2 linked regions of the Homo sapiens genome follow. Each later gene encodes a partner of the first gene's protein in a complex. Each region holds a gene or a part of one and is shown in the gene's direction. Other genes may lie near its edges.

The links.
Region 2: the proteins of GPSM2 (region 1) and FRMPD4 are in contact, whole or in part, in a crystal structure (PDB 4WND), measured with the Homo sapiens proteins. Residues at the interface, in NP_001307967.1 of Homo sapiens: Leu25, Ala28, Leu29, Glu32, Asp57, Lys59, Thr60, Ser62, Ala63, Ile64, Ser66, Gln67, Asn70, Phe73, Tyr74, His85, Asp88, Ala92, Gly100, Lys103, Asn107, Asn110, Thr111, Lys113, His128, Arg143, Tyr146, Asn147, Asn150, His153; in NP_055543.2 of Homo sapiens: Gln988, Leu989, Leu990, His991, Ser992, His994, Met995, Glu996, Met997, Glu998, Pro999, Glu1000, Thr1001, Met1002, Glu1003, Thr1004, Lys1005, Ser1006, Val1007, Thr1008, Asp1009, Tyr1010, Phe1011, Ser1012.

What each region holds. Positions count from the first base shown.
Region 1 is NC_000001.11:108,879,964-108,886,987, forward strand, and holds part of GPSM2 (G-protein-signaling modulator 2), read left to right. Parts: intron 1-2,512; exon of another isoform or gene 2,513-2,662; intron 2,663-5,311; 5' UTR 5,312-5,559; coding exon 5,560-5,615; intron 5,616-7,024. UniProt on the Homo sapiens protein: Plays an important role in mitotic spindle pole organization via its interaction with NUMA1. Required for cortical dynein-dynactin complex recruitment during metaphase. Plays a role in metaphase spindle orientation.
Region 2 is NC_000023.11:12,134,620-12,141,496, forward strand, and holds the start of FRMPD4 (FERM and PDZ domain-containing protein 4), read left to right. Parts: upstream 1-3,853; 5' UTR 3,854-4,352; coding exon 4,353-4,393; intron 4,394-6,877. UniProt on the Homo sapiens protein: Positive regulator of dendritic spine morphogenesis and density. Required for the maintenance of excitatory synaptic transmission. Binds phosphatidylinositol 4,5-bisphosphate.

The sequences.
Region 1 (7,024 bases):
CCCTCCCTTTTTCTTGAGCCATTCTTTTCCCTTGACTGGAATGCCTTTCCTTCATTTGGCTAATAAGATCTACCCATCCTTCAAGGTGCTGTACAAAATTCCTTGCTTCCAAAAAGTTTTCCCTGGTCCTTTTCAGTTAGAATTATTATTCCCATATTATCACAAAACATTATTGAATAGAAACATTTATTTTCCCACAGAATGGTGATAACTTTTGGGAAGAGAAGACAAAATCATGTTTAATATATTTTCCTATGGAGAATTCTAAACTCAAACTCTCTAGGGACCCTTTCTAAGCATTTATAATATTTCTGCATTTGGGATTTATTTCTGCTTTAAAATGTGTTTGGGTCAGGTGCAGTGGCTCACACCTGTAATCCCAGCACTTTGAGGGGCCCAGGTGGGCGGATCACTTGAGACCAGGAGTCGAGACCAGCCTGCCCAACATGGCGAAACCCTGTCTCTGATAAAAATACAAAAATTAGCCAGGCGTGGTGCTGGGCACCTGTGGGAGGCTGAGAGAGGAGAATCACTTGAACCCAGGACGTGGAGGTTACAGTGAGCCAAGATGGCGCCACTGCACTCCAGCCTGGGCGACAGAGTGAGACTCCGTCTCAAAAAAAAAAAAAACAATGCTTAGTGGAAAGGACCATTTCTTTTCTATTTCACTATTGAGCTTTAAAATTATGTATATGTATTAATTGATTGAAGCTGATGACTGGACCATCGTTGGTAATAATAAATGGCTATGCTTACCAAAAAGGTTTATATATAGTTCAGATGATCTAACCTGGTGGCAAGAAAAGTAAATTATATTTATTGTCTGATGAATGTTACCAGTTTGTGTAGATCCATGGATGGAAGAAACAGACCAAAAACAAACAAAGAAACAGACCAAAAGTTATTGGCATTTAAGTGGCAGTCAGGATCAGATAGTTTAGATAAATTCGAAGAAGCACAAAATGTAACCTGGTTTGCAAACTTTTTACTGCCAGTGGAGTAAAGCAGGGCTAGGATTTCTTTGATAAAGAGCTAGCCTTTCTTGTCTGCTCTGATTGCATACCTTGGACAGTGCCTGGAAGTCCACCTAGCTGTCTAAAGGGAGTCTGTCTATTTTGACTTCCTAATCAGATAATTAAATGTGAGGCAGTTAGAGTTATGTACTAGTTGATCTTTCTATATGTCTCTGTCAATTCCCGGGATATGGAAAAAATGATTGCCTTTTCTTTATGGTTAGATGCCGTGATCTAGCAATTTTGTTAATTTTGAGGTTTTTGGAGCATTGCTTGGAAGATGCTATTAAGAGACAGATTTGTTCCTTGCAGATTGTTAGTTGTAAATAGTAGTGGAGGTTGGAGGTTGAACTTGATGACTTCTCAATATCCTTTCAAACCTACAAATTATTTTCCAGTTCTTCGTCCTGTGATTAAATTTTCTTATCCTAATGATCAAATTTGTAATTTAATATTTGTTGCAAATTTTACTAGTCTTACACTATATACACACACATTGTATCTAGGAAGTAGGTTTGTTAACTCCATGTAATGAGGAACATGAGTGAACACATTATTGCTAAATTGGCTAGAGAGTTCTTAAAACATGAATCATGAATCAAGAATTGCTTGTTTGTTCAGTGAATATTTTTTTGTGTGAAGTGCTACCTAATTGTTATGGAGATTGTAATGTAAGAGGCACTTTTAAAGATATTCTTCCCTTGAGAATAGTAAGACTATATTATAAATTGCTCTTATTGAAATAGTGAATAGCATTCTGTCTTCTTGCTTATTTTAATGGTCTTAGAAATGGTTCTTTCTACATGCAGTTTTCATCAAGTAAAATATTTTGCAACTTTATTTATATTCATTTACTTATTCGTTAATTTGTGAAACATGTAAATGCTACATGTTTACATCTTAAGGAGTATGAAATTAACATTTTATAATTGCAAAATTTAGAATTTCATTAAGAACTCATGGATGAGAACAATATTTTGTTTTATTTTTTTAGAGACAGGGTCTCACTCTGTGGCCCAGACTGGAGTGCAGTGGTGCAATCATCGATTACTATAACCTCCAACTCCTGGGCTCAAGCAATCCTCCTGCCTCATCCTCCCAAGTAGCTGGGGCTATAGTCACAGGCCACCACACCTGGCTGATTTTTCAATTTTTTGTAGAAACGGGGTCTTGTACGTTGCCTGGGCTGGTCTTGAACTGTTGGTCTCAAGTGATCCTTCCACCTTGGTCTCCCAAAGCACTGGGATTACAGATGTCAGCCACCGGGCCTACCTAAGAAAAATATTTAAATTTAATATCAGTATCTGTGGGGAATTGGTTCCAGGACCCCCTGAGGATACCAAAATCCATGGATGCTCAAGTTCCTTATATAACATGGTATAGTATTTGCATATAACCTATACGCATCTTCCCACAAACTTTTAATCCTCTCTAGATTATTTATGATACCTAATACGATGTAAATGCTATGTAAATAGTTGTTATATGGTATTGTTTAGGGAACAATGCCAAGGAAAAAAGTCTACATGTTCAGTAGAGACACAACTTTTCATTTTCTTTCCTGAATATTTTTGATACGCGGTTGGTTGAATCCACTATGCAGAACCCACAGATCTGGAGGACCTACTATAATTTAATTTAATTCTAAGGTAAGTTAATTCTAATACCTCTCTTTCTGCTCCATTTTATAAATAACAGCCCAAACCTCATAGTGGATAACGGGAGATAATATCATTGCCAGTTTAGCTGTTTGTGTAATCTAGACGCCTTTGGAGCTATTGCAATGAGTATCCACACTAATTCCCTTTATTAATTTTTTTATTAAGGAAAAAAGAGGCACAGTGGAATTCTGAACAAAAGGAAAAGAGATTTGATGTGTTGATAGCTGCTATTTGATGTGTTGATAGCTGCTACCTTTTTGTTCTTTCTTAAAATACTGCTCCCTAGCCCGTGCTGTGGCATGCACCTGTAGTCCCAGCTACTTGGGAGGTTGAAGCGAGAGGATCACCAAGAGTTCCAGGCTGCAGTGTGCTATGATTGTGATGTGAATAGCCACTGTACTCCAACCTGGGCAACATAGCAAGATCCCATCTCTAAAAAAACAAAACAACAACAAAAGATAGTGCTTCCTTTGTTGGCCAAGGGAAGAGATAAGAGGAGTACTATTTTGTGTTTCTTGCAGGCTAAACTTGTTATTAATGTGAAAACCTCATTTCCTCTTGGAAACTTCATCAGTATTCCCAAGGCTGTTTCTTTCTACCTTCCCTCCTTTCACCTTCTGCTCTGTTCCCTATTAACTTCTAGCTGTACTTAATTAACAGAGCAGTGAGTATTCATTAGTCTGGTTTATGATATAGCTGAAATACTTAAAAGGATGTTATATAGAAGAGGAATTAGGCTTTATTGTATATGGCAGCAGAAGGAAGAAGTAGAACAAATGGGTAGAAATGGAAGAATTGCTCAAAGTATGGAACGATTTTCTTACAGGAATATTCAAAATTAAGATTAGCTGCTTTATGACCTATGTAGGAATGCTATAGTAAGATAGTGGACTAACTGACCTCTAGGATTGTTTATAACACTGAGATTCCAGGACTTTATGATTGTATATCTACCAATTTATCTCATATATGTATATGTATATCCTTCTTTGTCTTTCTCAACTGTTATCTCAGAGGTTATAGTTTATGTCTGATATGCTGTAGCTCTCTCTAATGTATCGGTATGGATTCATTTTTATTTAAATATTCTCAGTCTTTATCACTGAAGATTTTACCTTTATTCCTCTCTTTTTCTTTCTCACCCTCCTATTAGATATATTATAGAGCTGCTCATTTTGTCCTCCTTTTCTCTGAACTTCTCTTTATTATTTTTCATCTGCTTATTCTTTCTTTAGCTGCTTAACTAGTACATTGAGGGTTTGTTGTTGTTGTTGTTGTTGTTTTGGTGGGGGCAGACAGAGTTGCACTGTGTCGCCTGGGCTGGAGCGCAGTGGCATAATCTTGGCTCACTGCAACCTCCGCCTCCCGGGTTCAGGCTCACTGCAACCTCCACCTCCCGGGTTCAAGTGATTCTCATGCCTCAGCCTCCTGAGTAGCTGGGATTACAGGCTTGCATCACCACACCTGGCTAACTTTTGTATTTTTAGTAGAGACAGGGTTTCACCGTGTTGGCTAGGCTGGTCTTGAACTCCTGGCCTCAAGTGATCACCTGTGTCTGCCTCCCAAAGTGCTGGGATTACAGGCATGAGCCATTGCACCTGGCCCTAACTAGTACATTGAGTTATTAATATCAGTGTTCATGGTAGTTTTTTGTTTCATTTTGTTTTGGGGCAGGGTCTTGCTCTGTCAACCAGGCTGGAGTGCAGTGGCATGAATATTAATACTGTTAGTAACAGCAATCCAAAAAACTATAATCCAAATGTCCATCAACAGCAGAATGAAAAATACATTTGGTATACAATGGAATATACATGCAAGTTGTAGCTATGCACAACAATTGAGAAAAATCTCAGAAACAACGTTCAGCAAAATCATATAAAACTAAATGGTATCTTATTTAGGACTATACTGACATTCGTGTTAAAGTTGTAAAGACAAGCAAAGGAATAAGGAACAAAATACAGTTTAGAAATCACCTTAGAGGGAAAAGGAAGGAGATGGGTTAGGTTGGACTACCCAGGAGACTTTAAAGGCAGGTAATGTTCTTATTTTAGACTGAATGGTGTTATATAAATGTTTGTTGTGTCATTCTTTTTACCATATACATATTTCCCAAATGTCTTTTGTACCTACCCAATATTAATAAAAAACATTTTAAAGACCTTAAAGAGTTTAAGTAGAATATATTTTGAAAGCAAATGAATCCAACTATAACCGAAGTATCAGTGTGATATCTTCTTTGAAGAAATAAATTTACTGAGTTTGGAGTTGACTATTTCAAATAATTATTGAATTTTCATTTGATTTGTTAATAGTAGTTTTTAAAAGTTTGAAGCAGCAATTTTGTTTTTAGATGCTAATATGATACATACTGTTCTTTTTTGTTTATAGCAGAAAATATTACATAAAAGTATTAAATTTCAAACATATTTTAAAAATTACAGTTCTCAAATCTCATCTATTCCCACCCCTATTTAGAAGCTCCATGATGACAGTTAAGCCCTGTGCTATCTTCTGTATTGATTGACATGACAGCAGTCTGCAGAGTTAGCTTGTGATTATGTACAGCTCAGGGTTACTGTAGGTTGTTCTTTGAAAATAGGACTTCAAGCAAAGCATCTTGTATTCCTTTTGCAGAAATGTTGCTGAAGTGCTGCTGAAAGGGCCAGAGATGCAAGGATTTGGGATACATTTTGAACCTTTAAGCTGTCTGACATTGACCTCCTTTCATTATTAATAAAGAAGAATCAGGAGCTTAGGATGTATTAACACCAACTCATTAATATACTAACCGGACAATGTTCTACAAACAATTCTACATTGTAAAGGACTGGATTGGCACAAAATAAAATAATTTTATTTTATTCAGCTTATAATATGACTCGATGGAGGAAAATTTGATAAGCATGAGAGAAGACCATTCTTTTCATGTTCGTTACAGGTAAGACTATTGCTGTCTTAATGGATGACTTTTAATCCTTATTTTAAAGTGTTTTTAACTCTGATGACCATTTCAAGTTTCAGTTGAAAATACTCAAATATACCAGCCATAGTATTGTCTGTAGACAATATTTTCTTTTTGTTGTAAGTTTTCCTTTCTGTAAGAAAATGATAGTAGAGACCAATTATGTACTATGGTTTGTTTAATGTTCTCTGGAAGAGTTTATGAATAATTTCTTTATAATTTGTAACTTTTTATGTAATGCAAATATGTAAATGAAATATGTTTGAAAATCTTTGGGGCTAAAAGGTGGATTTTTTAAAAATGTGGTCAGCTGAAGGACCAAACCTTTGCATTGTAATTTAATGTGATCTTTTAGACATGAACTTTTTATTTTTGATTTATTTTTATTTTTTGTAGTGTATTGTTTTGATTCCCTTCTCATTTCCTTTTTTTGTATATTTTTTATTTTATTAATTTTACTTTTTCTATATTATCAGAGATGGGAGTCTCACTATATTGCCCAGGCAAGTCTCAAACTCCTGGGCTCAAGCAATCCTCCTGCCTCAGCCTCCAGAGTAGCAGGAACTACAGGTGTGTGCCACTGCACCTGGCTTTTTATTTTATCTTTAAAGGAAATTTTATTTCACAACCATTATTACTGTTTTAAATATGTACCTAATCCACATTAATATAAATACATTATTATTAAAATACAAACAAGCGCTGTTCAAAAGAAATGTCATTTTTAAGCTTAATGTCTAGTGACATTTTGTGTTGTTTTGCTGATTTAATACTTAAGACCACATTTTTACATGAAGTAGTGGTTTGGTAATCCCTAATTTACTCCAGAAAGCAAGTCAGGCTGAGGAAAGGCACCCACATGCATTCTCTCACAAGCTTCACGGTCCCTAGGGAAATGGCCTGGCTCCTCTAGGACTTACAGTGTTCCCTTGGATGCCCAAATGGATTGTCTACATTCCTGGTAGAAGGTTGCAGATTGTAAGGACCAGTGTTCCCACCTTTGTTCTGCATCCACAAGTGTCTTTCACAAATACAACACACTCCCTTTGGCTACACCTTATATATAATAGGTTATGCACATGTATGTGTGTTGGTGGGGGTGGATGCTTCCCACTGATCTAGATCAGGATCCAAATCAGACATACACATCAGGAAAGGAGGGAAGATAGCCAGGAAGTGATAGCTGGGCAGAATGAAGGTACAGAATGGGCAGGTCTTCCTGATTTTTCAGAAGAGCCCAGGAAATCTGAAAATCTGAAGAGTGTGTGTGTGTGTGTTTTTGTGTTTTTGTTTTTTTTTTTTTGGAGACAGTCTCACTCTGACGCCCAGGCTGGAGTGCAGTGGCACGAGTTTGGCTCACTGTAACCTCCGCCTCCCATGTTAAA
Region 2 (6,877 bases), on another chromosome or scaffold:
CCTTAAGAATGATGAAGCTCCTCACACTTCCCCCTGAGAATCCCCCGGGGCATAAAAAATGCTACAGCCTAGGGCTTTAGTAACTGCCCAGGCAACAAAGTGTTTGATTTTTAGGCAAAAGTGCCTACCTCTGATTAATCCAAGCGAATGTTGGGCCTCCTAAATAGTCATCTTACAGGCTGAAACTTTTCCTACCAGTACTGCCAAGGCTGCAGACAGCTGTGGAAATCCTTCTAGAGCTAATATTCATGTGCCTCAACTCATATGTAGCCAACTGTAAACTGGTGCCAACTTCAAGTGCTCATTTTGTGTAAGGTAAAGATGTATTATTTCCATTTTACAGCTGAGGAAACTGAGTCTCAGAGAAGTTATAGGACTTGCTCTGGATCTGGTGACCCTGAGTCTTTTATTCATGAGTACTTTCAACAGTGTTTGAAAGTGTGTCTGGTTTTCAGAAATGACCAAATGTCACTTGAACCTAAGTAAAGCAAATTAAGTAGATTCTCAAGGTTGGATAATACAGTTTCCAACTAGTAAATCCCTACAAGATCCAGAAGGGGCCTTAGAGATCATCCAGGTTAATAAGAAAACTTCAGAAAACCACATATGTACTCAGGATCCCACTTTTTTGGCTTTTATTTGTTTTAGGCAGATCTAGTTCATGCTAGACAAACCTATCCTAACCTCTGCAGCACACACCTGGCACAGAGAGGGGACAGAGCTGAGAGACCAACTACTCCAATCTCTGCCCTTCTGCCAAGATGGCTTAAAGATATAAACACTCTGTGTTAGCATGTTTCAAGGGAGCAGCTTTTTCCATTGTTGTATTAATGAGAAACAAAGGAGGAGGGGTGGAATCTCTTTGCTTTAGAAAACAATATCAATCCATTAGAAAACATACTAGATAATTACTATATGAGAGGTGTGTAAAGACCTGTAGAAGTCAGTCATTTCCCTTGGTAGCTATTATGCTGTGGAGAGATGGCATCTGCATCATTCATAACCGTAGCGCACAAATTGGCACAGGGAGAAGGCCAACAGCAAGCTGTTCCAGGTAGACCAGATGTCTCCAAGGGAGGCTGTCTCTCTAGAAGTAAACACAATGTCTATTTCCTGTCACTTTCACTGTTGAATAATTAGATATTTGGTATCTGGAATAATTATTGATAAATAGGGTAATCCTTTTAAAAAGAGCATCCCAACTGTTCTCTTCTCAGAAGGAAGCACTTTTTCAAAACACATTCTCCAAAGGCACTGTTTTATCCCCTTTTCCCAATCACGAGCTGGTCTTGTGCTGCCAGATGTTGACTCAGAGATGAGGGAACGTGTCGGTGGCCACTCTTTTGGGGGAAAGGTAGAAAAGGTGAAGGGGGAAAATAACTGGAGAATGTAAGAAGGCCTTTGTTGCCATCATTAACAGTCAGTCCAAAGGAGGTTGAAGGATGCTGGGGAAGTGGATGGGTGGGGAAAGAGACAGATGTAAGCCACGAAGTCATACACAGATCAGTACTCACTGGGGATGCTTGGCCAGCTTTGGTTTGGCTGTGAATCCAATGGGCATATGATTTGTTCGTTCAACAAATATTTCTTAAGTTCTTTCTACATCTGGGGAAGTGGTCTAGGCATTTGAGATCCATCAGTGAAAAACAAAAGCAAAACAAAACAAAGATCCCAGCCCTTGTGGAGCTCCAGTGGGAGATTCAGACCAAAAAAAAAAAAAAGAAATCCTAAAGATAAAAATAAATTATATAGTGTGCTAGTGGGTGATAAATGCTATGGAAACAAGAAAAAAGAATAAAACAGTTAATAGGGACTCGGAGTCCAGGGTGTGAGAACCTTTTGCAATTTTAAATTGGCTTTCTAGAGGGGGCATTTTGGAAGTGGTATTGGTGCATACATTTGACAGGGTGGAGAAGCCGGCCATGCAGATATCCCAGGAAAGAGCATTCCAGGCTGAGGGAACAACCATTGCAAAGAGCCTAAGGTGGGAAGATTACCTGTAGAGTTTGAAGGATAGCAAGAAGTCCAGAATTGCTGGAGCCCAGTGAGTGTATGTGTGTGAGAGAGGAGGGGCTCGGGGTAGGGGATGAGGAGGGACAGAGAAAAACGGGAGAGGGAAGTGGGCAGTAATAGTTGAGGTAAGAAAGATCAAAGGATACGGGATCTAGGGTCCTGTTGGCCCTTGCAGGAGCGCAACTTTAGCTTGACGGACAATGGGGAGCTTTTACATATTTTAGATCAGACAAGTAGCCTTATGTGATCTACGTTAAAACACACACACACACACACACACACACACACACACATACACACACACAAAACATCTTTTTGTCTGGTATGTTGAGAATAGATTATGGCATAAAAATAAAAGATTTCTAAATATATTGCCTTATATGAAAAGGTTGCGATGAGACTCCAATGCAAAAAAAAGCTTTAAAAATTATAAAGCACAGTGCAGACCCAAACTATAATTATTTTACAAACAATAGAGTTCAAAAGCCAAGGTCCCTCTCGCCCCTTCCGATCCTTGAGTAGTAACTGCGTTCATGCAATTAAACTAGCCTGTTTAATAGAAGCTGCAGGAAAACTGATAACTATGTATTCAAAAACATGTAATTTTATGCCTGAGTTTTAAGTCATTTAGATTTTGCAGATTGCTATTTATTTTATGTTCAGTTTTTGAAATAAATGCTTAAAAAAAACGCTTTAGTACTAGGCTTGAATACTGAAGACTTTAAATATAACAACAGACCAGGAGAGGAGCAGAAGTGTGGGAACTTTAAACCTATTTCTTTCTTAATCCCCTCGGAGAGCTAGACTGGAACACTGGCTGGATCTTCCAACATTTCTGGGGGTGCTCTCTGTTCTTTGCGGTGGCCCTGCCGCCAGGTGAACGCTGCCGGTGGGAGAGCACACACTTAGTGCGGCCAGCTGACCTTCACAGTCTGGGGGGAAATTTTAAAGGATTGTGGAGAAGAGGCCTTGAGACTTCAAGAGGAAGAAGAAAAAGGGGCCCAATGAAGCCTGAGCCTCCCAGGAGGTAGAACTGAGTTAATGAACAGGGCTGATTATCCAAGGTAATTATGTAAAAGAGAAGGCTAGGAGGAGTTCTAGATGGCTGCAACTTGGAGTTTACTCTGCCTAAGGTGAGTGTTTATGTTTCTGTGTTTTTGCTTCTCCGGCAAGGTTTTGTTTTGTTTTGTTTTTTTCTTCCCTGTTCCCTTCACCCAAGGCTCAGTGTGCAAAAGCAGCTCGCTCTGCGTGGCAGACCCCATTCTAATCCTTCTCTTTCCTTAGATTCTGAGCCCGGTTAGAATTAGCCTCCGCATCACGGGCTCCTGGGACCCTCCGCTCTATGCTCCTCGAGGAGGGAGCAGCTGTGTTCATCCCCCTACCCGCAAATGCCTCCGGTTCTTATTTGGCAGACACTCCCGCGGTGCTGCTGTCCAAAGACACACCTTCCCAGCCAGCCCAGTGGTCACGTCTCGCCCCAGCGATTCGGGAGAAGCAGTGGGAACTCTGAGCTCCCCGAATCGAGCCCGCTGCGCCTGGCATCTCCCTTCCCTTCCCCTTGACAAACGACCCAACCTCAATCATCCCTGCTCCTTCCGAACGCTAGTTTTGTTTACGGAGCAAACCGAGGCTTTGAGCAACCTGCGGTTGCACGGCTCTCCTTCGGCTTGGGGAGGGAGGGGTAGCGTTCACAGTTCTCCAGTGTGCCATAGACTGTTAGACCAGATCCTTCAGATCTAGAGGCACACGCAGTGGGTGACAGGAGAGTGCCCCCTCCCCCCGGGCGGGTGGGGGTGGGGAGAGGAGCAGGGACTCGGCTTGGAGAAGGAGGCAGGGAGGCAGCTGCAGTGCTGCGAGGGGTGCGTGCGCGTGTGCCCAGCTCGCCTGCCGTCTCCCGGCTCCGTCTGCGCTCCTCGGTGCGTGGGGCACGAGGGTCCGAGGGCCGGGAAGCCAGAGCAGCGCCTCTCGCCCAGGCCTCGCTTTCTCTGGACGCCCGGCAGTCCCCGGGGCTAGAGCGCACGGGGCGGGGCGCGAGACCCGGGCCGCGCTCCCCGCCCCCGCCTCTTGCGCCCTGCCTGGCTCCCTCTCCATTGAGTTTTCCTGCCTCGGGTGCCTATCAATGGTCCTGCTCGGGGATGCACACGCAGCTCGCGGCCGGAGGGGGGTAGCAGCCGCCGCCTCCAGGTGCAGGTTCTCTCCGGCCGCCGCCGCCACCCGCTGTCGCCGCGACTCGAGCCCCGGGCGCACTGAGGTCTTGGCCATGGGGCTGCGGAGGCTGCTGTTGCTGGCGTGAGAAGGGGCGACGGAGTTGTCGCGCTCGGGGGTCCCCAGCTGCCTGCATGGATGTCTTCAGCTTTGTGAAGATTGCAAAGCTTTCGAGGTAGGGGCTGCGCGGGTTCCGTTTGCACCCAGGGCCGCTGCCGCGGGCAACTTGGTGCCTTATTTTTCGGGAGGCTGGGTAGAGGCAAAAGCTGGAAAGCGCGACGGGGCTTAAGACAAACGAAGTGGCCGGGGGCTTCCACGTTCAACTTATTTCTCACTGGCTGCTGAGGCTTGTGTAGCGGCGGGTGTAGACCACACACAGAGAGGTACATACATGCCCTCACCAACACACCGACATTCACGACAGTTTGTTTTCCCTAAGGAAAAGCCCCAGCGGTGTTTGGGGTCCCATGTATAATTCAGGGCTAAGAGAAGATGGTTGTAATTGCTACTGCTAGGGAAACCCAGAAGTGCTTGGAGCTTGGGTGCCTGCCTTCCAAGCTGCAAAGACCAAAAGTGCCGCCTTCCCCCAACTCCTAAATTACACCTCCACACCTCCACAAAGTCAGCTCCTAGATTGACCAGGTGCTCCCAACGGTAACCTAGATGGCGAAGTCATGTAGATAGAAGAGAAAGACTTTCAGCCTTTTTTTTTTTGGGGGGGGGGTAACTATATTCTTAAGCCTCGAAAGATTTAGAAATTTTCTTCTAAGTGGCCATGTTGTTAAAACAGTAGCTAAAACTAAATCATCGATTCAGACATTTTTGGGTAGTACTGATAAAAGAGGAACATTTCCACGCTTGGGCCGCCTAGGTGTTGCCTGGCCAGAGCACTCCTCCAGGTCTTCTGCCCTGCTTATGCTTCCAAAGTCTTCGTTTGAGCCACAGAGTAAGGTTTGTGCTGCTTGCTATGTGGCATTAATTGGGAAGAGCCCAATAGGAGTGGTCTTAGAAAACCATGCCCAACCTTCTCTGCCCCTGGAGCTCTTTATAGCAGCTACCACCAGGACGTAGGAGGTAGACAGTTGGGTTTTTCCAGGATGTAGCTTAAAAACTTACTTGCAATATGGACAGAATAATCCCAGGTTTTCCTTCAGTCCTGAGTGTCAGAGTGAGATGTGTTGATTGCATCAGGCAGGGATGAGCAGCTTCCAATAGTCAGAGGTAGAAACGTATGTTGACTTTGCTTTATTAAATTACATTAGACCACTTCAGAAAGGTTCTGTTTGGATGTTGCCATTCTCTCCGACATCTACAGGTCTTTGTTCTGCCTGCCCATCTCCACCTTCCCTTTCTACTAACATGGGTCAGTCTTCATGCCACTAGCAGATTTCCCCAGGCAGAAAGGCCCAGTGCAGCTTACTCTAAGTAGACTGGAGATACGCAGTTGATGGGTAAATACCTGTGTCTTAGAGCAGCTCAGGAAGAGGTGTTGTCCTGCAGATCAGAAGACTGATGTGTTAAGCAGTGGATGATTGTGGTGTGGCCAATTGTTTGCTTTCAAGCTGATCTCATAGAGGGCCATTGCTTCACACCACTATTCTATTAACTTCCTGCATGCTTCTGCCTAGGGCTAGTTTCTAAACAGCTGTCAAATATTGAACCATGGTTGGGAAGCAGCTGTGTGCAAGTTTAGAGGCTAAGTGGTACCCTCCGTGTGATGGACAGAGATACTGCTAAAGGGAAAGGGAAGTTCAACCAATAGTATAGTTCAAAGTAACCAGGATACTTTTTGGTGGCCTCAGATGCTAAAAACAGTTTAACAAAACATCTAGAGCCTCGATTTAGTCCTTAAACTTAGGAACTTTGGAGAGGACAGTGTCATGTGTCAGTGAAAAGATGTTTCATATTCTTTTTACTAAATTCTAGGATGCCTACATGATATTCACAAATCTGAGTTTTTGCAAAACTCAAGCAAGGCTGTGGGGAGAGTGGTATCTTATTTTAAAGAGAGTTTAAAATTTAGTAAATGAGTGTGAGTTTCACTTTCTATCCTTAATGTGATCCAGTAGAGTGTTTATTCTAAAGACAGAAGGTGCAAATGTTCTGAGCTGATGTGCCGATTAAGAAATCTTCCATCCATAGAATTCTTCTTTTTCTTTAGTGTGAGCCCGAGGATGGTCCCCGTGCTGAGATAGAAGTACCTTTAGAGGGTCATCAGCATGTAAAAACACATGTTTGCAGTTGCTTGTTTCTGCCTTGGGAGGAAGAAAGTCTTGTATGTGTTTTAAACACTGTTACAGAAAGCAAGTTCTTTTCTCAAAGGTGAAGTATGAAAGTGCTTATACTGCAGGATTTTCCTGATTTCAGAATGGATAATCTTCCTAAAGGATTTAGCTTTGATCAGCATGGTTACTTCAGTGCTTAAAATTCTCTTGGTTTAGAGGCAAACACATGTAGTTACCCTGGGTACCTGGCCTTACCTTTGGTTCCTACAAACTTGAGCTTCTAAATGTTAATTCAGAAGGCATATCTTGGAAGTGATATTTGCTTAGTGTCCTATCTGTGAGTAAAGACAGTGTAATTACAGAGAATTCCAAGAGAATATTATTCGACACTGGAATAAATAAACTGCATATTTTGACTTTTTAGAGTGTCTACA